4 separate regions of the Homo sapiens genome follow, and all the other regions are reported to be linked to region 2. The links are microRNA targets in miRTarBase. Many come from high-throughput screens and were not tested one by one. Region 2 holds a microRNA gene; each other region holds the end of a gene's coding sequence.

What was found. Region 2 holds the annotated microRNA hsa-miR-575 (GAGCCAGUUGGACAGGAGC, at 3,181-3,199, opposite strand). A microRNA usually pairs through its seed, bases 2 to 8, with sites in the 3' UTR of a target mRNA and lowers its output. Matches are read on the target gene's strand: a 7mer-m8 pairs with bases 2 to 8, a 7mer-A1 pairs with bases 2 to 7 and ends in A, and an 8mer does both.
Region 1: miRTarBase lists KCNIP2 as a target of hsa-miR-575. Seed matches in the 3' UTR shown: 7mer-m8 at 5,647-5,653.
Region 3: the mRNA of DBN1 is a reported target of hsa-miR-575. Seed matches in the 3' UTR shown: 7mer-m8 at 723-729.
Region 4: the mRNA of LSP1 is a reported target of hsa-miR-575. Seed matches in the 3' UTR shown: 7mer-A1 at 2,127-2,133.

What each region holds. Positions count from the first base shown.
Region 1 is chr10:101,821,287-101,828,513 of GRCh38, forward strand. It overlaps KCNIP2 (potassium voltage-gated channel interacting protein 2), which reads right to left. Exons shown (of 10, transcript NM_173191.3): 6 at 7,103-7,173; 7 at 6,865-6,972; 8 at 6,603-6,707; 9 at 6,403-6,465; 10 at 4,688-6,114. The coding sequence ends at 6,067. It overlaps KCNIP2-AS1 (KCNIP2 antisense RNA 1), which reads left to right. Exons shown (of 3, transcript NR_045118.1): 2 at 6,574-6,653; 3 at 6,895-7,227. Among named protein-coding and RNA genes, the nearest start is that of KCNIP2-AS1, 5.8 kb to the left of the region's middle. RefSeq lists enhancers at 3,506-3,800, 6,300-7,227.
Region 2 is chr4:82,750,172-82,757,171 of GRCh38, forward strand. MIR575 (microRNA 575) reads right to left here and starts at 3,259; the gene lies at 3,166-3,259. The region is part of intron 1 of SCD5 (stearoyl-CoA desaturase 5); the gene reads right to left.
Region 3 is chr5:177,450,939-177,457,938 of GRCh38, reverse strand. DBN1 (drebrin 1) reads left to right here. Exons shown (of 15, transcript NM_001363541.2): 14 at 182-284; 15 at 436-1,329. The coding sequence ends at 506. It overlaps PRR7 (proline rich 7, synaptic), which reads right to left. Exons shown (of 4, transcript NM_030567.5): 2 at 3,899-3,983; 3 at 2,445-3,110; 4 at 1,653-2,215. The coding sequence starts at 2,871. The coding sequence ends at 1,818. Among named protein-coding and RNA genes, the nearest start is that of PRR7-AS1, 6.5 kb to the right of the region's middle. RefSeq lists enhancers at 72-772, 2,337-2,631, 2,879-3,579 and silencers at 1,325-1,524, 1,895-2,034, 2,125-2,674, 3,184-3,415, 2,865-3,474 and 1 more.
Region 4 is chr11:1,886,760-1,893,986 of GRCh38, reverse strand. LSP1 (lymphocyte specific protein 1) reads right to left here. Exons shown (of 11, transcript NM_002339.3): 8 at 7,121-7,227; 9 at 6,673-6,750; 10 at 6,411-6,513; 11 at 1,724-2,214. The coding sequence ends at 6,424. It overlaps PRR33 (proline rich 33), which reads left to right and starts at 2,092. Exons shown (of 1, transcript NM_001395380.1): 1 at 2,092-5,909. The coding sequence starts at 3,403. The coding sequence ends at 4,842. RefSeq lists a silencer at 6,614-6,780.

The DNA of each region.
Region 1 (7,227 bases), not on the chromosome of region 2:
TTCATCTCTTGACACTGCTTGCTCTTGCCACAAGTAGCTATAAATTAACCTAATAATGTTGTACTGGACATTCTAACACACACCCTATAGTTTAACAATGTATAGCCAATCAATAGCTTATGTTATTTTAATGTAAACTGTTGGTAAATAACTCAGGAACTGCCTCTTCTTTCCCTATAAAAATCCACTTGTAACTGCTGCTAATCAGAGTGTCTATTTAGGGCAACTTGAATCTATGCTCTTTCGTTGCAATCCTCAAGCTTATAATAAACTCTCTACTTGTATTCATTTTGCCTCAGCTTCTTCCTTATAGGTTGACAGGAGATTTGGGGGCTGTCATTCTGGCTGATGTCCTTAGTCTCATGACATTTTCCTCTTTGCCTTAATCACTGCCAGCAAGTCAGCAGCCACAATTTCTCCTACTTTCCATAGTCCAGTCTCATAGGGAAGGTTTGCCCCATTTCTGTGTCCCTCAAATTTGAAGAGTGGTTCTTGCCACATAACTGCTATACACTTTCTCACCATACCACACCTCTCTCCACCCACCCCCAACACCTACAACAGTAACAGTGCTTAGTAGACCTATGATGAATATTTGCGGAATGAATGAGATAGGGCCCTGCCCTCACAGATTTTACATTCTGTTTGGAGAACCAGACAATAACAAATTCAGTACACACATAGGAACTCACAGTTTGTGGTAAGGGCTATTAAGGGAAGAAACCTGCCAACTGCATCAAGGAGGAGCTACTTCAGATGGACAAATAGGAAGGAGTAATTTAGGTGAGTAGCAATAGTGGCTTGGGCTAGGAAACAGCATCAGAGAGAGAGAGGTGGTGTACCTTTGGTGGTAGAATTGGTGATTGATTAAATGGGGGTGGAGGGAGAATGAAGGAGAGGAAGAAATGGAGACTTCTAAATTTCGACCTGAGCAACTAGATGGATGTTGGTGTCATTTACTGAGATGGGAAAGACTGGAAAGGCATGAATCTAAGCTCCATTTTGAACATGTTAAGTTCAACCATTACAGGTCCACATTAATATATCAAATAGGCAATTGGACTAGGCACGGTGGCTCATTCCTGTAATCTCAGCACTTTGGGAAGCTGAGACTGGAGGAGGATCACTTGAACCCAGGAGTTCAAGAGCAGCCTGGGCAACATAGTGAGACCCCATCTCTACAAAAAATTAAAACATTAGCAGGGTGTGGGTGGCACACACTTGTAGTCCCAGTTACTCTGGAGGCTGAGGTGGGAGGATCGCTGGAGCCCAGGAGTTTGAGACTGCAGTGAGCTGTGATTGTACCACTGCACTCCAGCCTGGGTGACAGGAAAAAAAAAAAAAAAGCGGGGGGCAATTGGATAGACAGGTTTTGGATTTCAGAAGAGAGAGTTCTGGGGATATAAACTTAGGAGCCTCTGCATATCGACGGTGTTTAAAGCCATGGGATTAGGGGTGGTTTGGAAAAGAGGCTTAGGTCTGAGCTGTAGGGCCTAAGATTTAAAATTCAAGTTGAGAAGGATGAGTCTATAAGGGAGGGCTGAGAAGGGGTAGCCAGAAGGGCACGAGGAAAACCAGGAGCGTAGGAAATACTGGAAGGCAAGAAAGGAGAGTATTTTGAGATGGAGCAGCTGACAACACTCAGAACCCAACCAATGGCCAAGATGAAATAATCTGAGGCTGGCGTAGTGGCTCACACCTGTAATCACAGCACTTTGGGAGGCTGAGGCGGGTGGATCGCCTGAGGTCAGGAGTTCGAGACCAGCCTGACCAATATGGCGAAACCCCGTCTCTACTAAAAATATAAAAATTAGCCAGGCATGGCGGCATGTGCTTGTAATCCCAGCTACTCGGAGGCTGAGGCAGGGGAATCGCTTGAACCCGGGAGGCGGAGGTTGTAGTGAGTGGAGATCACTCCACTGCACTCCAGCCTGGGTGACAATCTGAATGCCAACCTACTGTTTTTTTTCTGGATCTCATCTGTAGGCTTGGGCTCTGGGGCACTTCTCAGCTTACTAGCAGTTCTCTGCTTCAATCCCACTAAACTTGAATCTACCTTAGAAAATGGAAACTGGGCAAGGCGTGATGGCTCACACCTGTAATCACAGCACTTTGGGAGGCTGAGGTGGGCACACTGCTTGAGCTCAGGAGTTCGAGACCAGCCTGAGCAATGTGGTGAAACCCTGTCTCTACCAAAAATACAAAAAATTAGCCAGGCGTGGTGGTGTGCACCTGTGGTCCCAGCTACTTGGGAGGCTGGGGTGGGAGGATCACCTGAGCCTGGGAGGTGGAGGCTGCAGTGAGCTGAGATTGTGAGACCCAGTCTCAAAAGAAAAAACAACTGTCTCCATACCTATGTAATTATATACACACATTCACCATGTACTTTCATCCATTATTATTTACTGAATAATGGATGTCCTTACATCCATTATTGTGTGCCAGGCCCCATGGATAAGATGGTGAAGAAAAAAACCCTAGTCCAGGCACTCAGGGAGCCCTCAGGAACTTACAGTGTATAGGAGAAGACAAGTATATAATTACCCAAGTAAGTATATGGTTACAAACTGAGAAGTGCCATAAAGGAAAAGCAGAGGGCATTGTGAGAGCCTGTCATAGTGTCACTTTGCTTGGATTATGCATAACATGCACAGCATCCACTCTTCACATACAATTCTTTGGTTTTTTTTTTCTGAGATGGAGTCTCGCTCTGTCACCCAGGCTGGAGTGCAGTGGCACGATCTCGGCTCACTGCAAGCTCCGCCTCCTGGGTTCACGCCATTCTCCTGCCTCAGCCTCCCGAGTAGCTGGGACTACAGGCGCCTGCCACCATGCCCGGCTAATTTTTTGTATTTTTAGTAGAGACAGGGTTTCACTGTGTTATCCAGGATGGTCTCAATCTCCTGACCTCGTGATCTGCCCACCTCAGCCTCCCAAAGTGCTGGCATTACAGGTGTGAGCCACTGCGCCCGGCCCACATACAACTCTTGACTGTGCCCAAAGGCCACTGTTGACAGACTTGAGGGATTGAGTCTAGCCTCAGTCCTGCTACAAACTCACTGAGTGACCTTGAGCAAGTCTCCCTTCTCTGAGCCTGCTTCTTCTATGAAATGGAGGGTTAGACTGGATCACATGTTCTTTTCTTTTTGAGACAGAGTCTCATTCTGTTGCCCAGGCTGGAGTGCAGTGGTGCCATCTCGGCTCACTGCAACCTCCGCTTCCCAGGTTCAGGCGATTCTCTGGCCTCAGCCTCCCAAGTAGCTGGGATTACACGTATGCGCCACCATGCCCAGCTAATTTTGCATTTTTAATAGAGATGAGGTTTCACTATGTTGGCCAAACTGGTCTTGAACTCCTGACCTCAAGTGATCCACCAACCTCAGCCTCCCAAAGTGCTGGGATTACAGGCGTGAGCCGCTGCACTCACTCTAGATCACAGGTTCTTAACTTAGGACCCATAGATGAGCTTCAGGGATACAAAAATGCATGGGAATTCTTGCCTTTTTCTTTCTTCTGGATAGTGGGCCCACAGCTTTTATCAGATCTTTATGTTGATGACTCAAAGAAACCCAAGGGCCCAAGAAGCAGATGGTTCTTTGATGATATAAGCAGGGAACACAGATGATAAAACAATGGACGCTAAAAGTGAGTTTTTGCTTTTTGGACAACATATCTCTCCCCTTGACTTCATCACGAGGGAGGATAAGGCCTGTTACTCCTCCTATGGATGGTGAAGCTTAGTCACCCATAATGGTGACCCAGAGAAAGGATGAGAGGAACCAACCATTGGTGGGTCCCTCTGCAGGAGCAGAACAAAGAAAGAGTGGGAACACACAGAAAGTCCATGTCATCCTTTGTGCCATCTGCCTCATGGTGACCTGCGCTGGGTCCACTCCATCTCATTCCCCCATCATTCCTGGCTGGGGTATGGACACAAAAAATATTTATCTATACTGGAGGCAAGGTTGGAATGTTGACACAAAGGAACTTTCATTAGAAACTAAAGGGAAGGTCTGTGCATGGTGGCTCACGCCTGTAACCAACACTTTGGGAGGCTTAGGCGGGCAGATCACATGAGGTCAGGAGTTTGAGACCAGCCTGGCCATCATGGCGAAACCCTGTCTCTACTAAAAATACAAAAATTAGCCGGGCATGGCAGTGCACGCCTTTAATCCCAGCTATTCGGGAAGCTGACGCAGGAGAATTGCTTGAACCCAGGAAGCGGAGGCTGCAGTAAAGCCAAGATCACGCCACTGCACTCCAGCCTGGGCGAAAGAGAGACACTCTGTCTCAGAAAAAAAAAAAAAAGAAAGAAACTAAAGGGAGGCCCCTCAAAAGAAAGCACTTTGAGATTAACTAAAAAGTCTGTAAATTAGAAATCTGTGATTCAACTTGTAAGAATGTCAGCTAAAAAACAGCTTGCTTGGCACAGTCTTCGGGACATCAGTGTCCTGTCCTTCCTTCCTTGTCTCCTCTCAGGCTGTGTGGGAGGGAGATTCATGTGGGGGCCTGAGGTTGGGTGGGTTTCCAACCATTCCAGAGCCTGTGTCTCAGTCTCATGCCAAGGTATGGCCAACTATGGAAAAGAAAGCCACTTTCTTGGGGATCTAAAAGGCTGCAGGTGCATTCGTTAGGGGTTGTGTAGTATTTGTAGGTGGGAGGGACAAAAGGCAGAGACGGCAGCCTGTGCATAGCCATTGTGTTTTATTAGATCTGGTATATTTCTTACTTTACAAAATATATAGAAGAGCCCAAAATGCAAAGCAGTCAACAGTCTTCTGATGGGGAAGGGGGCTCTCTGGGGGCTCTCCCCTCAGATTCTGGCCAACTGGGAGGGTAAGCTAAATGGGACGAGCAGGTGTGCTAAGGGGTGGCCGCATGGCTGGGGTGCTGACAATGGGGTTGGAACCTGGGTCCTATGGTCCCTGCCCTCTAGGTGTGCTAAGGGGCATCTCTGGGTAGATTGAGTCAAGCAAGAAGAGACCCTAGGGAACTGAGGAGGTTATCTGGGGTGGGGTGGGGAGAGCCCAGGTTGATTGAAGATTCTAGTGAATGCCCCCACACTGGGTTCAGATGCTATGCCTGCCTCCCTCCTTCCCTCTCCCTTCTAAGGCATCCACTGTGGGGAGTGATAGGCCCCAAGTTCAGGAAGGTCCCAAGTCTATAGAGAACATGGGAAACAAAAACTCAAGTCATAGCCCTCAAAACAGGGACGATAAGCAAGGAGGGTGGGATGAAATTTTGGCAGGCATCAGCCAGGACATCCCCCATCCACATTCCCCCACCACAACCACCACCAACACATGCAGGAAGGAAGGAGAGGAAGCAATGCCAGAGATGAGCCAGATATCTGGCCCCAGGCTCTCCATGGATACCGAGGAGGGTGTGGAAAATTTCTGGGGCATTTCTAAGGAGACAAGGTCTTCTGCAAAGCCTGGAAACTTATATTTTGATGGCCTGTGGTAGCAGACCTGTGGAACTTGGAGCTATAACCTGGTATGCCTGAGCAATCATAATCTGTCCAGGCCCTTCTATTCTCAACCCCAGCCACCTCCTAGGACCTATCCATTGACTCAGGCCCAAGATTTCTCCCTATACATTCTTGTCCCCCTCCCACAGGGCTCTCAATGGCTGGTCTGAGAAGCCAGCCAGTGCCAAGAATGGAGCATTCTCTCTGAGAGGGGAGTCTTAGGGGAAATGTTTATGAGGTCAGGGATGGGGGAAGCACCATAGCAGGAGACATCTGTCTAGTGTGTTTCTAGAGTAGGGGTAGGAGGTGGGGAACCGCTCAATTCCTACAGGAGGGGCACTCTCAACACTGGGTGTCAGGCAGGAAGGGGGTGAGAGCTGGTGGGAGTTGGGAACACCCCCCGAGATGCACTCTGCCCACTCTCTGGCCCCTTCAGCTCCAGAGATCTGGACTACTGAATCCCCAAGCTCTTGGATCCCTCCAGCCCCCAGGGAGGCGTAGGATGAGGATAGACCTGGGAAGAGAAGGGTGAGGTCCGCCTGGACTAGGGTTAGAGCATGGTCCCCCCAGGAAACACTGACCCCCTCTCCTGGGGGCTAGATGACATTGTCAAAGAGCTGCATGGACCTCATGATGTTCTCATCCTGTGGCCATGATGTGAGCGAGGCAGATTGAAGAGAGAGAAAGAGAAGGAGCTTATCAGAGACAGTGAGAGGGACACTGAGTCACAGACGGGGACATTCAAAAGCACAGAGGAAGGAGATGCCCAGAGAGACCTGAGGTAGGGAAGGGGTAAGCCTCCCACAAAGGAATAGGATTGAAATATGGGGGTGAGGTGGGAAGGTGGTATTCTTCCCAAAGAAGCTTTTCCCTGCATTACTAAATCAGGCCTGAGTCCAGGTCAGGGTAATGTAGAGGGCAGGGAGCTGTACCTTTTGACAAGACTCAATGAATTCCTCAATGGTCACCACACCATCCTTGTTTCTGTCCATCTTCTGCAAGAAGGTGGTCAGGCAGGGAGAACAGGAGGGATGGCAAGAGAGAGGCAGACAGAAGTCAGGTGAGTTCCCTGCTGGTTCTTGGCCTTCTTCCCTTCACTCCAGGGCCCTCCAGCCTACCCACTCCCAAGTACCTGGAAGAAGCTCTCCACGTGTTCCCTTGGGGCCTCCTCCCGGAGTGCAGGGTACGTGTACTTGCCCATCATGTCATAGATGGACTTCATGATGTCAAGCATTTCCTGTTAGGCCAAGAGAGAAGAGGATCCTTCCTCAGAGCCTCCAGCCTCCCTTGATCCCTTGCTTGTGGGCATATGTGGGTCATATTTCCCTCCCATCACCCTCTGCACGCCACCCCCATCACCGCCACAGACCCCCAGCCCTTCAGTTGCCCTGCACCTCCTTGGTGATGCAGCCGTCCTTGTTAAGGTCATACAGGTTGAAGGCCCAATTAAGCCTGTCATCTACAGTTCCCCGAAGAATCACGGACAAACCAGCCACAAAGTCCTGGGAAGGAGGCAGGAGGGAGCTGTGTCCTCGGGTACTCTTCACCCAACTCCTTCTCTGGGTTTGGCCTGGAGATCCTGGCCCTGAACTCCAGGAAACAGGCTTCCCTGGCCCACCTCGCCCAGCTCACCTCAAAACTGACCGAGCCATCATGGTTGGTGTCAAAGGCATTGAAGAGAAAAGTGGCATAGGTGCTGGAGTCTGCAGGGTGAGTGTGGAGAAGTTGGCTTCCACACAGGAGAGGACTTCCTCCCT
Region 2 (7,000 bases):
AATATTATCAAGTAAGGTGGCTGAGAGCCAGAGTTGGCATGGGATGGCCATTGGGAGGGCCGGGGCACTTACAGACATGGTCTTCCACATTGATAACTTTGAGATCCATCTCCCCATCCTCTGTGTTTAAAGTAGCTGAGTCGACAGACTGAGAACAAGGAGGAGCTACCTACACCCTGCAGGAGTAACACAGGACCAAACACTATCTCCAAAACATCTGTGTAACAATTACTTCTTCACACATGCAAGAAGTAAAGGGAATAAAAAGACATTCAAAATTAGAAGCAAATAAGCACACTTTGTAAAGATTAAGAATGTAATGGTGACACTGACTGCAAGTGTCCACCCAGGCTAATAAAATTACTTGGAGAAAAAATGTTCTTCAAGATCCAGGGAAGCCATGGAGAGTCTTTTGAGTCCTCGAGAATATGGCTTTACTTTTGCCAGCCACAAGAGAGCTGCTTGTAGCAAAAAAAAAAAAAAGTCATGAAACCAAAAGGCAGTTCATTATGTCTGTTTAAAAGAAAGCACTGTTGGAGAAGAGGAAGCTCTGACGAAACGGTCTGCTAGGTGGACAGGTAGGGAGGACTCAGAAGTCCATTTTACAGGTAGTGAATCTCATGTTTAAGGCCAAAGTGAAGTTGTTTGCCAAGGGCTCTCTAGCACAGAGTTCCTCTAAACCTTGGGCAGCAAATGCCAAAGAACTTACCTTTCCCAGAGTTCCCCAACTAGTGAAACATTCAGCAAGTCAGCCCAGGCTAGGCTGGTTTCTTGGTTATATGCTCTTAGATCCGTGTTCCCTCCTCTCACAGCACTTACATATTAACCTCTGTGACTATGTCTTCCTCCCCAGTCTTCAAATTTCATGAGAACAAGGTCTGTTTTTGTTTTCCATGGTATCTTCAGGGCTTCACAAAGAGCTGTGTAAACCCATCATAAAGCATACAATAAGCCCATAATAAGTATCGGTGGAATAAATAAATGAGCAAAATCAACAAATGTGTGACACAGAACAGGAGTTTTTCATTTAACTTGTATTTTAGAGACAGAGTCTCACTCTGTCGCTCAGGCTGGAGTGCAGTGGCGTGATCATAGCTCACTGCAGCCTCTAACTCCTGGCCTCAAGCAATCCTCCCACATCAGCCTCCTTAGTAGCTAGGACTACAGGCATGCACCACCATACCCGGCTAAGAGAAGAGGAGTTTGAGGACTAACTACTTGCATTCGACATTCATGGGGACATTTACATTGGGCCTGCATATTGATATTGCTTAAAATATGTTCTTTATGTTTCACTAAATCTTTAAATCTCTTAGGACTGAGAAAAGCCAAATCCTATGTACATCAGTCAGGGAGGTAAGGTCCCTATATATGCTGTTTTAAAGTTATAAATGTCTGTTTCAGAGCACAAGGATTAATAACTTTAAAATCTTTTGAATCTTTTACTTTTATTTAGTTAGTTAGTTATTTTTTTGAGACGGAGTCTTGTTCTGTCACCAGGCTGGAGTGCACTGGTGCAATCTCCGCGCACTGCAACCTTTGACTCCCTGGTTCAAGCAATTCTCCTGCCTCAGCCTACCGAGTAGCTGGGATTACAGGCACGCGCCACTACGCCAAGCTGATTTTTGTATTTTTAGAAGAGATGGGGTTTCACCATGTTGGCCAGGCTGGTCTTGATCTCCTGACCTTGTGATCTGCCAGTTTCCGCCTCCCAAAGTGCTGGGATTACAGGCGTGAGCCACCACGCCCAGCCTCTTTTCTCTAGATTGGAAAATATCTTTGTTAGAAAAACATTCCTCTCCTTTAGACTACAAATTGGAAGAATTTCTAAAAATAGAACAGTGACAAAACCCTGGATTGTGGATTTTAGCAAGAAATACTGCCCTGTTAAAGACCTGCTTTAAAGCAAAAGAAATCCCCATAAGTCTGTGGGCAGGAGAATCACCATCACAAGGCCTGAAGTATTTAACTTTAGTTAAATATAATTTTAAACCAGGAAAATCTGCTCATGTATGGGAATTTGTAGTTCTATAAGGATTAGGGAAAACAGAAGGCAGAATACAAGCAATATCTCTCAAGGTTGACCTTGAATTTTAAAAAATTATATATATATATATATATGCAAAATCAGGCAAGATCTTGACACTCCAAAATGGTGTCTGTGGCTCTTAGTGAGGTGGAAGCACAGGGACGTGGGAATAGGTGGGAAGAAGAGAGTCTTTTAAAACCAGCCAGCTGAAATGTTCTTGTCAATAAAGGCATCATTTTACTTCTTCTACTAGGTTAGGATGATTTGAAGGCCTGCATAAACCAAAAGCTGTCACTATAATTCAAGGATAATTGGAACAAATGGCTGCTTAGCACCAGAAAGAGATGGGGCTGAGGAGATGGAATCTTCCAGCCTTTGGGTTGTTCCAGGGAGCATGATCTTCACCTTAAATCCCAGCTGAACAATATCTGTCCCTTTTCCTGTCCCCTCACCAAAACTGGACCTGGAGAAGCCTATGTATTTGTTTGCATGGAATCCTCGCCCTGTGAGCACACACACATCCACTCAGTTCTTTCACGCTTCTCTCTCTTCCCCATTCTTCACACACACAGCTACATCTGTTTCCCTTTTTCCCCCTAAATAAACTTACTCCAGTGTTGAAAATGGATACAAATTGAATCCTACCCACCAAATACTGCATCACATTTTCCCAAAAATGACATGACTTTACCCCAGTGATAAAAGGGAGGTCCTCTTTGCTACCATTAAAATATATCTTTTACTTAATTCCCTGCCCTCTCCTCACCAAGAAAACTCAGTAAGGAACTGCAGGGACCTTAAAGACCATCCAGACTTTGGCTGTGCAGAGTGTGTTCTGGGGACCCACACCATCAGTTTGCCCAGGAGCACATGGGAAGAGAAGAATCCCCAGCCCCACTGAAAACCACAGGACTGGAGTCTGCATTTTAGCAAGATCCTATGTGATTCCTGTGCACATTCCAGTTTGAGAGACATGTGTCTAGGGAGCATGTCTCACCTACTTCATGTGAGAGTTACCTGGGGAGCTTTTACAGCCACCCAAGCCTCACCTGAGACCAAATTAATCCACATTCTCTAGATGGCTATGTGTGTTAAAAGCTCCCTGGGGTGGGGGTGGGGGGTTCTGTGTATGGCCAGAGTTGAGTGGCACTGCTCCTGTCCAACTGGCTCATTGTGCAGACAGCCTGAGTAGCCCAAGGTCATGACATAAGCCAGTGGCAGGGCTGAATTTAAAGGCACAAAGCAGTGCGCCCCAGAGTCACGCGGGTGGACTCTGACAGTGATAGTGTCCATTTCCCACATCTGCCAGGAGTGTGGCTCTTTGTGGGCTGAGTCACCTGCGGGGAAGGGTTTCAGGTTAGAATGTTCATAGGGTGTCACCCAAATCACTGTTTTTAAGCCCTTCTCTACTCCCAAAGAAGTCATTTAATTTGGCCTGGAGGATAGCATCAAAAAACTATGTAACCAATGATATTTCTGCTTGACCTGCCAAATGTGTATTAAATGCATCCATATTTGCCTCCCCCCTCAGCCATCTTCCCCTTTTCCCCTGACTCCAGTTTATAGGAAAAGCAGCCAGCACATACCCCCCTGACAGAAGTCTATGAAAATCCAACTGAGAGGGATTAAAAGGCAGACAGGGCGTATTCCATTTCCTTGAGGCCCTGGGAAAATGTCACATCCGAGGCTGAGCCAGTCCTGATGAGAAAGCCTCGTTGCTGCCAGCTGGGAGGGTTCAAGGTTTGCCAAGCACTGAAGACACTGTTTATGAAAAGCTTTAAATGTCAAGTACCCTGGCTCCTTAGGGTCCTCCCACAAGATAACGCAGTCTCTTGTCAAGCACAGACTCGCCCGAAAAATGAGACCTGAGAAAGGGGCAAGGCTGAGGCATCTGTTCAAAGACAAGCTTCTCAGAGGCCCTGGCTTCTTATGTGGAGGAAAACTTATCTCCCCGTTTTGCAGGAGTTAAGAAGGGCAAAAGAGAATGACAGTGCAGGGAGAGAAAGCGGGAAATCAGAAGAGAAAGGAGAAGGGAGAGAAGAAAGTGAGAGAATGCAGGAAGAGAGAAATGTGCAGATACTAAAAATAAATTCAAAGGCCCTGCTTTTCAACCTCCTCAGTTTTCATATCACAGAAAAGCAGCTAAATCTTCTGAGAAAGCTCAAATGCAAGGACTAAGAATGGGAAAGCAGAGAGAGGGAGGAGAAGTCCTTTCATCAAAATACTTAGGAATCTCAGTGCGTGGTCACTTGGCTGCCACAGGAGGGGTCTGGGTGGTCCTAAGAGGGAGAGGGACTCCTTCCAGGCTCCCCCCAGGACCCACCCTCCCCTCACCAGCAGCCCACCCTCCTAACCCGACAGGGAGGAAACCTGCTCAGTGCTGCTATTTACAATTTCCATTCAGGCAATCTTCACATTTTGGAATGGCATTTGCCAAGGGAGACGATCTCAGCTCCTCTTCTATTTTCAGGTTCCCTCTTGCATAGCGGATGGCATCAGTACTAAGCTCCAAGAAGCAATTTAGAAGAGTGGTTGCTGGAAAGTGGGGGAACCCATGCCAATCTACAGACCTGCAGAGCCTGGGGATGAAGCTTTTATTTTTAACACTGGGATCTGTGAGGCTGACCTATATTTCACTTCTTATATCGGCAGAAGTGACAAGCCTCGAAGGCCAGGGCACAGAGCTGAGCCTCAGGAGTCTGAGGCTTTGAACACTTCACTCAGAGGAACAGAAGCAACAAGACACCAAGCCCACCATGGACAGAGACAGCCGCTAAAACAGAAGGTGCCAAAGTGCCTAGGCTAAGGTTGCAGGGTGCACTCAGTAGACCAGATGGGAAGAACTTGATGTCAGTTTTACCTTCAGAACTTGGAAAGTCTATAGCCAGACCAAACTATGCAGCTAACAAGAAGATGGGGGGTGAGGATGGGGGTGGAGGTGGGCACAAATTGAAGGCCCAGGAAAGGAGAAAATGGGTAGGAGAATGTCGAAAAAATTAGGAGAGATGAAAGAAAGGGGCCAGGCATGGTGGCTCATGCCTGTAATCCCAGCACTTTGGGAGGCTGAGGCAGGCAGATCACCTGAGGCCAGGAGTTTGAGACCAGCCTGGCCAACATGGCAAAACCCAGTGTCTACTAAAAATACAAAAATTAACTAGGCATGGTGGCACACGCCTGTAATTCCAGCTACTTGGGAGGCTGAGGCAGGGGAATCATTTGAACCTGGGAGGCGGAGGTTGCAGTGAGCTGAGATCACACCACTGCACTCCAGCCTGGGCGACAGAGCAAGACTGTCTCAAAAAACAGAAAAGAAAGAAAGAAAGGGGTGGTGTAGATGTGGGGAGAGGGAATGTTAAATTTGCATATTTCAGTAGTGGAACCTGTCCAACACTTCAGAGTCCCTTGGTCAAACAGGCAGAAAAGAAGGCAGCATTAAACAATGCGCTCAAAAAGGATGGCTTAACACCATCAGATAATGTTTTTCAAAATACGTCTAGTCTCCACTATTATCATATTTCATATTTTATTTCTCCTACTCATTCTCAAAACCAAACCCTCTAAAGCATATTTGTCTGGCCAGCCTTATGATGACAAGTCTTCAAATGCATGATACCATGTTGAATTTAATTTTATGCCTGAAACACTAAAGGCTGGCACGGCTCCATTATCTTTTTGTCAAACCCTCACATTTTAATCTGCCATCCAGTCAGTGGACTGGAAACAGAGAAAAATCACTTCAGATTATGAAAAATTTTGACCCTGCACCACCAGAATTTGTTTAAATCAAATTGTCATCTAAATGGAAAGCAGTATAGTGATTTAGTGTTGGTGTAGAGGCCCTGTGGCTCAGTGACAAGAGGCTCCAGGAGGAAGGGCACAGCCTGAGATGCCTTCCTCCTCTGGGTGTCCACAGGCACATCACACTAAGCAGGTGTAATATGGAAACCAGCATCTCTCTCCACTCCCTTCTAGAATCATCAGTCAATGGCACCATCACCCACTCGGTCACCCAAGTAAAATTCCTGCTGGTGGCAGCAGTGGTGGGGATGGTGGGTCATCGAGACCCCCTCTCCTGCCCTCCTGGACCAGTCAGGACAGGCATGGCACAGTGATGATGAGAGCAGGCGCTGGAGTTAAACTACACGGCTGTGAGTCCCAGTTGGTTACTTGCTAGCCATGTGCCATTCAGCCAAGTCACTTAGCCTCTCTATGCCTCAACTTTCTTATCTATAAAACCTCTTTAGGCTGGGCAAGGTGGCTCACGCCTGTAATCCCAGCACTTTGGGAGGCTGAGGCAGGTGGATCACTTGAGGTCAGGAGTTCAAGACCAGCCTGGCCAACATGGTGAAACCCCATCTCTACTAAAAATACAAAATTAGCCAGGTGTGGTGGTGTGCACCTGTAATCCCAGTTACTCGGGAAGCTGAGGCAGCATTAGCTAAGACTGTTCCTCCCCCACCCCCCTCCCCCCGTCCATGCAATTATCAGGACCTGTCAAGTTCAAAGTCCTCTCCATTCCATGCTCTTTCCTACTTGTAGCCGCCCTCACCATCTCTCACTAGAACCAACACAACATCTCCCTCCTTGGTCTCCTTGTCTGTAGTCTTGCCCCCCTCAAATCCATCCTCCATAGAGCCACCCACACTGCATATCAAGACATGAAACCAAACTGTTGTTGTTGTTGAGAGAGGATCTCCCTCTGTCACCCAGGCTGGAGTGTTGTGGCGCAATCTTGGCTCACCACAGCCTCTGCCTCCTGGGCTCAAGTAATCCTCCCACCTTGACCTCTCAAAGTGCTGGGATTATAGGCGTGAGCCACTACATGTGATCCCACTCCCATTCTCAAAACCCTTCCATGGCACCTCACCTTCCACAGAGGGAAAACCCAAACTTCTTAGTGTGACACATAAGGAGCCTTCCCCACCCTCTCTCCATCCTCGCTTTCAGTCTCTCCTCTCCCATCTCCTTTCC
Region 3 (7,000 bases), not on the chromosome of region 2:
GGGAAGTCCATCCCACCCTCCCTCCCTGGGCCGGCTCTGCTTTTGTTCCCAAGGCAGGCATCCTTGTTTCCCTGGCAACCACTGATGGAATCATTGGTTGCTGGGGAAACGGGCTCAGGCCTGATAGGTCAGCCCCAGTCCTGCTGGGTGGGGCCAAGTGACCTGATGCTTTCCCCTGCAGGCCAGTGAGGGGTACTTCAGTCAATCACAGGAGGAGGAGTTTGCCCAATCGGAAGAGCTCTGTGCCAAGGCTCCGCCTCCTGTGTTCTACAACAAGCCTCCAGGTAGTACTGGGCTGGATGATGGGGAGGAATTTGGGTGCGGGGGCTGGATTTGAGTGTGGGTAGCCACCCCACCACTACCCACCGCTCACAGAGGCTGGGGACACAAGCGGTCTGCTAGGTCCCTAACTCCTCTCCCTTTCTAACGCCACAGAGATCGACATCACATGCTGGGATGCAGACCCAGTTCCAGAAGAGGAGGAGGGCTTCGAGGGTGGTGATTAGCGGTGGCGCCAGCCCTAGGCTACCCTTGCCAAGGCCGCCCACCTGCATCAGCCTCTGGCCAGACGGCCCGCCGTGCCTGCATTCGCAGCAGCTCCGCCTGGCACCCACTCCGGATTCCGGCCCTGGCTGGGGACTTGGCCGCTTCCCTACCCACAGGGCCTGACTTTTACAGCTTTTCTCTTTTTTTAAAAAGTTGATAGGAGACTTGTACAGTTGACTGGCTTTCCTCTCGTTGGTAGTTGAGACGCTGTTGCAAATTCCACCCCTCCTTCCCTGGTCCAGATTGTAGCTCTTAGTCCTCCCTGCTCAGCTGGCCGGGTTGGAGGCCTCACCCTGCTTGGGGCCTGGCGTGGGGGGAGCTCTGGTGGGAAAATGTCCCCCACCTCTTTTCCTAGTTTTATGTTTCTTGGGAAAATATCACTTTGTATTCTCTGTCCAGGGCTTCAGATATTTTGCACGAATTTTAAAACATGGCAATAAATGGCTCGTGGGCTCTGGCTCCCTGGGACCCCCTCCCCGCCCTTCTTTTGACCCCTTCCTGTCTGGCCCAAAGGAAGTAGCAGGCCCAGCTGGGGCCCCTCGGCTACCCCCCGTCTCCTGCCGGGCAGGTCCCAGGTTGGAGGCCCTAGGCGCGGTTCAGGTCAGGGCTATGGATGGGGCCCAGGGGCTTTGGTGGCCCCTCCCCAACTCCTTCCTCTTTGCTTGGGTTCCTTTTTCACGTTTAGTAACTGTTTTTTTTTTTTTTTTTTTTTTTTTTTTGGAAAGCACAAACTTCTGTAACGGGTCGTGCTCATGTCTGTTAATAAAGAAATCCAGATCCCTTCGGGCTGCCGCCTGCCCTGACCCAGGTTCCCAACTCCTCCCACCTCCGAGGCCGCAGCACCTCCTTGCCACCAGGGGGCGTCCTCACCCTAATTCCAAGGCCCGCCAGGCGGGGGCGGGGTGGGGGGGCGGTGCTAGGGGCTAAGGCTCCCAGGGGAAGCCGCTTGGCACCTACAACCACCGGAGAAGGGTTGGTCTTAGACTTAGTGCTGTACCCTTAGGTTCTGTTGTGGCGGAAACGCACGTTGAGGGTCCTTCCCGCCAAGGCCCCGGCTTGTCTGGTCACACAGAACCCTGGGCGAAAGCAGCCGGTGCACCCTCCGCTTGTACCAAACCAGATCACACACCTTTATTATCCTCAAAATGTAACAAACGGGATAAGAAATCCCTCCCTCCCCCCGCCCCTCCCCGCAGTCCAGGGAAGCATTTAAAAAGCCCCGCAGTCAGGCCAGGAGTCCGCCGGTGGGGCCCGGGGCGCCGGGCGCCCCTCTATACGGCTGTAGTCCTCCCGAACAAGGGGATGGAGACCGGCAGACGCCAAGCTCCGTGCTCCAGGGGCTCGCGGCTGCTGAGCTCTGAGTCGGTCCAGCTGGGGAAGACCCGGCGGCCACGGTCGGCCTGCAGGCAGAGGGCTGGGCAGGGCGGCGCGGGCCGAGGGGCGCTGGGCAGGTGCAGCGCCGAGGTGTAGCCCCGGTCCAGGAAGAGCGGCTTGTAGCTGGGAGGCGGCTGCTCCTGCTTCTCCGCGCTGTCGCGGCGACTCAGGAAGGGCGTGACGATCTTGCGGTAGAGGCCGCGCGTGTCCGTGAGCACCTCGCTATAGGGCGGCGGCGGCTCTGCCATCAGCACCGCCTCTTCGTAACACGGTGGTTTGGACATGTCCGATTCCGCTGCGGAGTGGGAGGCGGTCGGAGGAGGTGAGGCCGCCGGTTCCCAGCCTCTCGCAGAGGCCCCGGCCAGGGGCCGCCCGCGCCCCAGCCCTAGCCCGAACCCGAGCCCGCCGCCGCCCGTGTTCTCCCGGAGGCTGCGGATGGAAGCCCTGAGGGTAAGCAGCGAGCCCTCCAACGCCCGCCCACTTCCGGCGGCCCGGATCGCCCCCTGGCGGAGGTCGGTACTCACCTTGGCGCGGGTAGCTCCAGGGCCGTGGCGGCACCGACAGGTGCGTAGGCGGCGGGTGCGGGAGCGCGTGGTGGTGCGGGTGTGGGTGCGCGTGCGCGTGCGGCTGCGCGGGCCCGTGGTGCAGCAGCGGGTGCACGTGCACGTGCGGATGCGAGTGCGCGTGAGCCGGCGCCTCCAGGCGGCTACGGTGTGGTGGTGGCTGCGGCGGCGCCAGGCCCGGGGGGCTCCCGGCCAGACTGCCCTCGAGTTCGAGGGGCTCCAGCTCTAGGGCGCGCAGGTTCTGCTCGCGCAGTCGCTCCTCCTGGCGCCGTTTGAGGCGGCGGCGCAGGAAGCTGCAGAAGCAGCAGAGCAGGACGATGAGACCCCAGATGAGCCAGAAGCCGGCGAAGCACGTGAGGAACGTGTAGGTGCCCTGGGACATCACCATGGCGGCGGCACGGGCGGCGGGTCCTCAGACGCTTCACTGGACACTGGGCTCCGCTGCGTGGCCCCGGGCCCGCGCCACACTCTCAGGTGCCGCCAGCGTCACTCGGGGACCCGCGGCCGGGGGCTGCCCGTGGCAGGTCTCAAGTCGTGCGCGCGCCGGCGGGGGACAGCAGCGGCGCCCGCTCCTTCCCATGGCGCCGGCGGGCGCGCGGGCGTGCCTCACCCGGGGCCGCGCGGGACCTGTAGGGCAGACACGGGGCGCAGTGAAGGCGCGCCGCGGCCCCCAACGACTTCCCGGCCCCCGCCCGCGCCCTGCGCAGTCCGGGGAAAGCCTCCTCCGTGGGAACCTCGCGCTCCCCGGGGGCCCGGTGACGTCACCGAGGAGGGTGACGTCACGCCTCGAGGTTTCCCCGGTAGGGTTTCCCCGATCTGAGCCCCGGCCGCCGCCGCGGAGCCCGGGCGCCGAGGGGAGCCGAGGCGGGCCAGCAGGGGGCGCGCGAAGGACGGACTCCAGCTCTGAGTCCGAACGAGAGATTCGCCATCCGCAGTCCCGGGGCCAAAGGGTTTCAGGAGCCTGTGCGCACCAGGTCCCTGAAGAGGCGTCTCGGCGCCGTTGCTGTGCGGCGGGGAAAGGGTGGTACATCTCCTAGAGCCCCACAGACAGCCACCCGACGCCCTGTACAGACGCCTGGCAGCCCCTGGCTGCCCAAAGCCCGGAACAACTGGCTCCGCACCGCGCCCTCCGGGTCTCCCGCCGCTCCCGTAGGGGGGCTCAGGCGGGTGGCTCCGACTGGTAATGCGTGCCACCGGCCCTGCCTTTGTCTGAGCCTAGCGCGCCGCGCCGGGCGTGGGCCACACTCTCTTCCTTTCCTCCAGGCGCCCTGCCTGCTCCAACTCCGCTTCCCCGCCTCCTGCCCTTGCACAGCCCCACTTGGCTCTGCCTCTGTCTTCAGGCCGCCGTCTCCCTTTCCCTCTCGCGGAGGGGAGGAAAACTAGATGAGGGTTGGAAGCTAGTCTTTCGTACCCACCTGGTCCTGCACTCACTCCAGATGGGCATCTCTAGTTCCGCTTCCTCCTCTCCACAGCTGCGGGTGAGAGGGGGAACCTTGCACCCTAAGAGGGAGGTAGGAGGGAGCCCTGACTCTGAGAGTGAAGGGTGGCAGGTGACTGCTCACCGCCCCCACAGAACAGAACTGAGCCTTTCCTGAATGCCTTATACACACAGGTTTGAACGAAAGCCTTTGGGGTAACTGGAATGATTCCTATTTTACAGACGAGGAGTTGGGGGAACAACTGGCTGTGTAGATGGCAGGTGGTAGCACCATAATTTGAACCCAGGCCTGGCCACAAAACTCTAGCCTGAGTGGGGTGGGGGGTAGCGCTGCCTGGGCTACTTTGTGGGCCTCTTCCAGGAGCCCCACGGACCCTACCCTCCGCGTGCCCGAGGCACACACACACTGCTTCGAGAGCCACAGGGAGCCTGAGCCCCAGGCTGGGGGGAAGCCAGGCCATGGCCACCCCACACTTCTCCCCAGATGGCTCCTGTCTGACTCCATGGCTGCCTTCAGCCACGTGCCACTTGGTGCCCTTGCCAGTCCCCTTCTCCTGGGCCTGCGTTCCAGAACAGACAATGGCAGGAACCATAGCTCTGCCCGCCCCCTCGACAACCCTGCCATGAGGCTGCCATGGTGACGCAGCCCAGATAAAAACACGATGCTGCCAGTCACTGGGAGTTAATTACATCTGTTATTCTTTTCCTGAGCCATCAGGAATGCTCTGAGGAAACTGGCACTAACTAGAGGTCCCCCGGTCTGCCAGGCAGGAACAGCTCTGGGTCAGAAAAGGTAACTCTGGGGCTGGAGGTGATGGGGTTTAGCTGAATTAGAAATATCTTTCAAGGACCACGCAGAATCCTCTCTTCAACACCACCTTGTCTGTGGTGGTTGTGCCCATTTGATAGACAGGGAGATAGGCTCAGAGAGGGGAATGACTTGCCCCAGGTCACACAGCTCAGAAGGGGAGGAGCTAGGATTTAGCCTGAGTCTGAATCCAAACTCTGTGCCAGATGTAAGTGGCAGCCATGGGGGCACTGGGCAGACAAGCCAGCTAGCAGCCAAAATGCATTCCCATCCCTTCCCACCAGGGCCCTGGCATGCCTGATCACCAGCCCGACTCTGCTGTGGAATAGCAGTGTGAGAAAGAGCTACAGGATGAAGGGGAGATGTAATGGCAGCGCCAGGTTAGCAAGAGACAAAAGAGAGGGCCCTCTGTGCCCTGAGGGCGCCCAGCTCAGCAGGTGGGGCATTAGGCCATACAGGGCAGGCCACGCCCAGGACCTGCTGGGTGCCGTCATAGCTGCATTTTATAAACTAGGCAACTTTGGGCCAAAGAGAGGAAGGCTCTTGCTTAAGGTCACATAACTAGCCCCCTGGCCCCAACCTGGCTCCACCCCCAGGTGGAGTGGGTAGGGATTTGACACTGAACGCTGTCTTCTCGGCAGTGCCACAGCAGGCCCACGGGACTGGAATCCTGTCTGAAGCCTCCCTCCCAGGTGCTCAGTAGACTCTCATCTAACCGACCATAGGTGCTCAATACATAAACATCAGAGGTTCATTCAGACCTTTCAAAATGCTCTACCTGACCAGGCCAGACTTGGCAAAGCCTCCCGAAAAAACCATGCCCCCTTACTGCTCCTTTACTATGTGAGCTCTTGCCCTTGTCTGGGAGCCTTTCAGACTCAGAGCCTGCCTGCAGCCTGCTGCTCCCAGCCACTCCCTCCACTGCCCACACTGCTCCAGACTGGTAGTAGCCAATACGTGCCTCCTCCTACCTACCCAACACATTCAGGTGCTCGGAGCGATGCCCTGCAGATGGACCGAAGTCTGCCATTTGATTACTCACGTTCTGTTTCCTGTTTCTCTTTTCTTACTTTCTTGAAGGTTATTTGAACATGTTTTAGGGTTGCATCTTGATTTATCTGTAGTGCTTTTGAACCATATCGCTCTGCATGTTTTCTCGGGCCACACACTCACTGGGAGCACGGCAGGGGGATGAAAGCGAGACCCTTGGTGAGTTTCTTAACCTCCAAGTTGCCTCTGTTTCCTCATCGGTGAAGATGAAGCTAATCATGCAAAGGGTGTGGAGGTACCAACAGACATTAGCTCTGATGATGGTGGTTTCTGAGCTGAGGATGCAGACATGTGTGTGTCCCCAGGGTGCTCCCTGCCTGAGGGTGGGCTCCACACTCACTCTTCGAAGCAGGCTACAGGGTGCTCCCTGCCTGAGGGCTGGGCACCACAGTCACTCTCCGAAGCAGGCTACAGGGTGCTCCCTGCCTGAGGGCTGGGCACCACAGTCACTCTCCGAAGCAGGCTACAGGGTGCTCCCTGCCTGAGGGTGGGCTCCACACTCACTCTCCGAAGCAGGCTACAGGGTGCTCCCTGCCTGAGGGTGGGCTCCACACTCACTCTCCGAAGCAGGCTACAGGGTGCTCCCTGCCTGAGGGTGGGCTCCACACTCACTCTCCGAAGCAGGCTACAGGGTGCTCCCTGCCTGAGGGTGGGTTCCACACTCACTCTCCGAAGCAGGCTACAGGGTGCTCCCTGCCTGAGGGTGGGCTCCACACTCACTCTCCGAAGCAGGCTACAGGGTGCTCCCTGCCTGAGGGTGGGCTCCACACTCACTCTCCGAAGCAGGCTACAGGGTGCTCCCTGCCTGAGGGTGGGCTCCACACTCACTCTCCGAAGCAGGCTGGCATTCTTGTTAGTTGGCAGATGAGAACACTTGGCTCAAGGAGCTTAAATGACACCCAAGGGCACACAGAGCCAGGGCCTGGCTGCATTGCTGTGGGCACCTCCCACACTGCCCTGTGCACACTTCAGCCTTACAGGCCAAAGCACCAAAGATCTGCTACTGGGTCCTTTATCTCAGCAAAGAGCCTACCATTCCTTCCGTCCGCCGCATCCTCTGCAGGGTGGCATTTGTCCACTTCCTTTGGTCCTCCTGCCACTGCCTTGGCCAGGCCAGCATCGTCTCTCCCCTGGCCCCCATCACCATGCTTGCCACTGTGCTGTGCCCCTGCCCAGCCTAGTCACTCCTCACAACACTACGCTGCCTCAGGAGCCAATCTA
Region 4 (7,227 bases), not on the chromosome of region 2:
CGCTCTCTGTCCATCCATTCATCTATCCCTTCACCCATCCATCCACCCACCCATCTACCCATCCACTCATCCATCTCTCCATTCATCCATCCACCTATCCATTCACTCACTCACCTATCTATCTATCCGTCCTTTCATCCATCCTTTCATCTACCCATCCACACATCCATCCCTCCATTCATCCATCCACCTATCCATCCATCCACCTGTCCATCCACTCTCATCCATCCCTTCATCCATCCATCCATCTACCCATCCATGCATCCATCCCTTCATTCATCAATCCCTCCATTATCTATCTATCCATCCATCCAACCACCTACCCATCCCTTCATTTATCGCTCCTTCCATCCATCCATCCACCCACCCACCTACCCATTCACTCACTCATCCCTCCCTCCATCCCCCCTCTCTCCCTCTGTCCATTCATCCAGCCATCCCTTCATCCATCCATCCACTCATCTACCTATCCACTCATGCATCCCTCCTTTCATCCATCCACCTATCCATTCACTAACCCATCCATCCATCCATCCAGCCAGCCAGCCAGCCAGCCAGCCATCCTCCCACCCACCCATCCATTCACCCACCTATTCACCCACTCATCCATCCATTAGTCCATCCATCCACCCACCTGCTTACCCATTCACTCATCCATACATCCCTCTATCCATTCATCCATCCCCTATTCATCCACTCACCCATCCCTCCACTCACCCACCCAACCATTCATCCACTCACCCACCTACCCATCCATTCACCTGCTTATCCGTCCACTCATCCATCCATCTATCAATCCATCCATCCACCCACCCACCCACTTACTCATTCACTCATCCATATGTCCGTCTATCCATTCATCCATCCCCTATTCATCCACTCACCCATCCCTCCACTCACCCACCCAACCATTCATCCACTCACCCACCTACCCATCCATTCACCTGCTTATCCGTCCACTCATCCATCCATCAATCCATCCATCCACCCACCCACCCACTTACTCATTCACTCATCCACATATCCCTCTATCCATTCATCCATCCCCTATTCATCCACTCACCCATCCCTCCACTCGCTCATCCAGCCATTCATCCACTCACCCACCTACCCATCCATTCACCCACCTATCTGTCCACTCATCCATCCATTCATCTGATCATCTATCCATTCGTCCACCCACCTACCCATCCATCCATCCACCCACTTGCCCACCCAGCCATTCATCCACTCGCCCACCTACCCATCCATTCACCCACCTATCCATCCACTCATCCATCCATTAATCTATTCATCTATCCATTCGTCCACCCACCTACCCATCCATCCATCCACCCACCCATCCACCCATTTGTCTGTTTTCCAAACCTTCACTGAGCACCTCCTGTGTGGTGTTGGGGGAGGCCCCGAGGTGGATCTTGCCCTCAGTGGGTGCGAAGTCAAGGCACAGAAGTTTATATTGGGCTAGTCCTGGTTGGGGTAGGGATATCACAGACATTCTGGAAAAGGAAGCCCGGACCCCACCCATTGTGTGTGCTCTGACTTAGGCCACCAGAGAGCTTATGTCCTGGCGTCTTATACTGCAAAGGCCATGAGACAGGTCAGACTGCCTGAACCCAGAGGCCACAGCATGCTGTGCAGTGTGGGAATGGGCTGGCCACTGGCCCAACATTTCCATCCTGGCCAGCCCTGCCCCCTTAGTGAGTACAAGACAGCCAGCACATGAGAATACACAGGGAGCTTTATTATACAAAATGGCGGGGTGGGGGGCGGCAAGCAGCGGGGGACGCAGCATCAAGCATCCTGCATGGCCGTTATCAGCCCTTGACCTGCAGTTTCTCCTTGGATCTGGGGGGGTGACCCACCCTCTCTGCACAGGCTGTGCCTCAACCTCCTAACTTCCTAGAAGGCACTTGGCCTCTCCAGGGGTAAGTCCCTTTGGCCAATGATCAGGAGTTTCTTTCCTCCCCCAAGTAACAAGAAGCGGAGCTGGGTGGGGAGGGCGGGGGCGGTGGTCAGAGAGTGGAAGGGCAGAGAGGCTAAAGGGTCCAGGAGCAAAAGGAGGTGGCAGCGGATGGCATCAAAGAGGCGAGGGTAGGTCATGCTGGCAACAGGAAGCAACTTCTTAGCCAGGGCCGGGGGGCGGGTGTCTGGCTGGAATCTCCCCTGGGTACATGGAGGGTGCCAGCCGGCTGGACCTGCAGACCCAGGAAGCTGGAACATAGGCATGGGGTGCAGGGGGCATTAGGCTAGGGTCCAGGGAGGGGCCACAGACCTGCCTCCTGCAAGCCCACAGAGCCTGCTCCCCGAGCCTCTCTCTGCTGGCCTCCCTGCCCTGCCCACACCCCCACTCCACCACAGGAGAAGACGTCCTGCCTCAGAGGCCTGCTTCCCAGTGCGAGCACTTGTGCCCTGGGTCAGGACCTCTGGCTGGAGACCTGACTCCTGGTGGAGGGAAGGCGGCCTGCCTGCCAAGCAGCCTGCCCACCCTGGGAGCTAGAACTGGGGTTCTCGTGGTTCCTGCAGTCCCGTCATCCAGAGGAGGCCGGTAGCTGAGAGCAGTCCTAAGCAGGCTCCTTCCGCCCCCACCCCTCCAGCAGCTCTGTTCTTGCCTTGGCAGAGCCAGCCCCCACCAGCGGCAGCCCCCAGGACTCCCTCCTTCCCCAAACCAGAGAGCCTCTGGCTCGGACAGATGCCATTTGTCAATGTCCTTGCAAACACGTGGTGCCCAGAAACCAGGGTGGGCGGCTTGGCCGGGCCACCCCAGACAGGAGGTCTGCGGGAATATCCCATTTAGCATAGCTCAGCGAAAACTGCTCCCACCTTCCGGCCAATCTACCTCTGATGATGCAGCCTCGGCTTTCCCAAGCCTCTTGGCCGCCACCCCTCACCGCTGGCTCGCAGCGGACGCGCCTGTGGTTGAGCCGGCGACAACAGGGCGCCCCTCACGTGTCTGGGGGCAGCCGCTCTTCCAGCCCTGGGCTTGGCCAGCAGCTGGCCAGGGGCATGCCTGTCACTTGGGGCTCACCCGCGTCTCCGTCTCCCACCCCAGCCCACACGGTGTTGCGGCCTGACCCAGGCTGTGTACTTGGGGCCTGCTTTGTGCTGGGGTGGCATGGAGGACAGAGCCCTGGAGGCAGGTTCTAGCCCCATCCCTGGAGGGACTCGGCCTCTGTGGCCTCATTTCTACACTAGGGTGATGGTGGGGCCACCCCAAAGTCCCCAAGGCACAGTCGAGCTCAGCATGTCCCTGGCAGGTTCTGGGTGCTCAGGAAGCAGAATACTCAGGCCTCCACACCCCTGGCCCCAGGTCCTCCTTGGACCACAGGAGACACAGGCCTCCCACCTCAGGAGGGAGGAGGGCTGGCCTGACCACTGTCCCTCCCACCCTAGGACACAGTCATGCTCATATCGGCTGCGTCGATGGCACCCGAGGTGTGCGGCCCAAGCCTCCAGGGAACCCCTGGACCCCCACCGCCCCTGCTGCCCAAGCCAGGGAAGGACAACTTGCGTTTGCAGAAGCTCCTGAGGAAGGCAGCCCGGAAGAAGATGATGGGAGGCACACACCTCGCTCCACCCAGGGCCTTCCGCACCTCCCTGTCCCCCGTGAGTGAGGCCAGCCATGACCAGGAGGTCACAGCCCCGCACGCTGCTGAGGGCCCGCACCCCGCCGAAGCCCCACGCCTTCCTGAAGCCCCACGCCCCGCCGAGGCTCCCCGCATGGTGGCTGCCCTACCCCGCTCCCCGCACACCCCCATCATCCACCACGTGGCATCACCCCTGCAGAAGTCCACGTTCTCCATCGGCCTCACCCAGCGCAGGATTCTAGCTGCTCAATTCAGGGCCATGGGGCCCCAGGTTGTAGCCTCGGCCCCAGAACCTACCCGGCCCCCCAGTGGCTTCGTCCCTGTCTCTGGGGGTGGGGGCACCCACGTCACCCAGGTGCACATCCAGCTGGCACCATCCCCACACAATGGGACCCCTGAGCCTCCCAGGACAGCCCCAGAAGTGGGATCCAACAGCCAGGATGGAGATGCCACCCCAAGTCCCCCCAGGGCCCAGCCCCTGGTCCCAGTGGCTCACATCCGCCCACTGCCCACCACAGTCCAGGCTGCCAGTCCCTTGCCTGAGGAGCCCCCTGTACCACGGCCGCCACCCGGCTTCCAGGCCTCAGTGCCCAGAGAGGCTAGTGCCAGGGTTGTGGTGCCCATAGCCCCGACCTGCCGCTCGCTGGAGTCCTCACCGCACAGCCTGGTCCCCATGGGCCCTGGCAGAGAGCACCTGGAGGAGCCCCCGATGGCTGGCCCCGCCGCTGAGGCCGAGCGAGTGTCCAGCCCTGCCTGGGCCTCATCCCCTACCCCACCATCAGGCCCTCACCCATGCCCTGTCCCCAAAGTTGCACCCAAGCCCCGGCTCAGTGGCTGGACGTGGCTCAAGAAGCAGCTGCTGGAGGAGGCCCCAGAGCCTCCGTGCCCAGAGCCGCGGCAGAGCCTGGAGCCAGAGGTGCCCACCCCCACAGAGCAGGAGGTGCCTGCCCCCACAGAGCAGGAGGTGCCCGCCCTCACCGCACCCCGGGCCCCCGCCTCCCGGACCTCCAGGATGTGGGATGCCGTGCTGTACCGCATGTCAGTGGCGGAGGCCCAAGGGCGCCTGGCAGGGCCCAGCGGTGGGGAGCACACCCCAGCCAGCCTCACCCGCCTGCCCTTCCTGTACCGGCCTCGCTTCAACGCCCGGAAGCTGCAGGAGGCCACCCGGCCCCCTCCCACAGTCCGCTCCATCCTGGAGCTGAGCCCCCAGCCCAAGAACTTCAACCGCACAGCGACTGGCTGGAGGCTCCAGTGAAGTGGCCAGAATGGCCCCCAGAGCCCAGGACCATGGGATGGACAGAAGAAGGGGCTGAGGCTCTAGCTGGGGGCCCATAGTTGCTGCATGAAGATGCACCAGGGCCCAAGGGGCATGGGGTGCAGGGCAGCCTGGGAAGGGCACATGGGGTGCTGAGGGAAGTCTGCATGGTTAGGAGGGTGGTCAGGTGGACGGGGCAGAGAGGACGAGCTGGAGCCCCTGGGCTGCAGTGGTGTGAGGGGAACAGAGAAGGGGTCTGCGTCGGGATGTAGGATGGGGGCCTTGGGATGAAAACTTTAGGTAAGATGGCAGAGGACTGCATCTACTGACCTAGCCCAGGCTCCTCAGGGGCCTGGGCCTCTCACTGATCCTCCCTTTTGCTGTCACCTTTTGCTGTCAAAGGTTTGGGGCCAGATCTCTGCTTGCTGAGGCATGGGTGCGGTCAGGCTGGCTTGGCCATCGGCGTCAGGAGCAGTCAGCAGTTTTGCTGCCTGTGCTTCCTGATGGCAGAGCCAGATCCTGGGACTAGGGTGCAGGGGGGAGCCCTCAGCCAGCGTGGGACTTGGCACCAATACAAGTGCTCAGGGGCAGGCAGGGAGGGGCTCATCAGGGGTGGAGGAGGGCCCAGCGTGACCTCTCTCTCGGCCCACCTCTGCTTCCCCTACCTGGGCTGACAGCCTGAGGGGGCAGAACTCGAGGGATTCGCTGGTGGGACAGCGAGGGTCTCAGCACTGGCCATGCCCAGGCTTTGACAGCTGGATGAGGAGGGAGCCCTCAGTCCCAACCCTATGGGAACAGCTTGGCCAAGCGGGACAGAGAAGGGGCTGTGGCCCTGGTGGGGAGAGTGGAGGGGCCTACTCAGCAGTCAGCCAGGCTCTGGTGGGGGTGGCCAACCACAGGAGAGGGACACAGAGGTACCAGAAAAAGCCTCTGCCACAGCTGCTTGAGAGTCAGGGTTTGGCAGGGGAAGATGGTAGGAGGACAGCTGCCCCACCCTGTGGTGTGATGGGTGCTGGAAATGGAGCCTGGGGCCCAGGTCACTAATAAATGTGTGTCTCACCATGGCAGGAGTGGCACTGCTCTGTCTGCAGCATGGGATGGGGAGGGCATCAGGACCTCTGAATCGCTCTCGGCTGGGACAGGGAGTAGGACCTAAGTTCCTGCCCCTCTATGGACCCTCAGCATACAGATGGTCAGGGAACCTGGGCTCCATGCCACCTGCTTCCTTCAATGCTAGCCCTGTGGTGGCCAGGCTGCCCCTCACTTCCCTCACGAGCCCTGCTGTGGCTTTTGGGGAGTCCCAGATGGGAGCCTTGAGCTTCCCTAGTGGAGCAGTGGCTGAGCCGGGCTGACTCTAGTGAAATGAGCAGAGAGTTTGAATCTGGTATCAGGTGAGAGAGGCAGCATCTGCACAGGACTGGGAGACTGAGCTGGTCTGGGTTCTGGCCAACTCGGAGTCCACCCTTGTAGCCTGCAACAGGGCTCCAGGCAGCCTCCAGGTTGCCAAGTTCCCAGCACAGTGCACGTGTGTGCACCTCATCCCCTTCTGTGAGTTGCCAGGGACTCACCGAGATGGGACGCCTAGGGAGCCGGGCCCCCTTCCACAAGCACCTTCTCATACTTCCCATGCCCGGTGGCCACAAACTTATACCTCTTCCCAGATGGGGTGCTCTGTTGGGAAAGGAGACCAAGAGTGAAGGTGAGAGCAGCAGAAAGGAGATGATGCTGCCTCCGCCTCTGGGAAGCCCTCCCAGATGCACAGAGGACAGTCCCTCTTTGCCCTCCCCTGCTGCACCCACCCTGCCTGCACCAACCACATTTAGGCTCTACCTTAATTGTTGATGAGGTCTTGGAGCCTCCCTTCTGCTCCCAGAGGCTTTTCTTGCTCATGTCTCCAGCCACAATATCCTGGGGGCAGCAGAAGGGTATGTCACAAGGGCAGACCCCTGGATCTTGGGGAGTAGAAGCCCTGGGCCCTTCTCTCCCGCCTTGCCTTACCTGGCCAGGGGGCCTGGGATCTGCCTACCTAAACTTTTTCTGTGTGATCCCAGTGGAAGAGGCAGGGAAAGGAATAAAGGTGCCATCTACCTCCACTCGGACAACACAGCCTTCTACACCAGCAAGGGTGAACCCAACCCTACTGCAATACCTCAGGGTTCTGTATACCCACATTCATCCTGGACAGTCCCATGCTTGTCTTAACAAGGAAACCCGGCCTGCTACTAAACTCCCAGGCGCTGGCTCTGCAGCCCAGCCTTGCCCCTGGAGGGGACCTTACCTTGCAGGACGGAGTCTTGGCCGCAGACTGAGCCTGTACCTCACCCGTCTCCCACCGACTCTTGGTACTGGCCACAGCCATGCTGGGCAGCTCTATGGAGGCCTGGC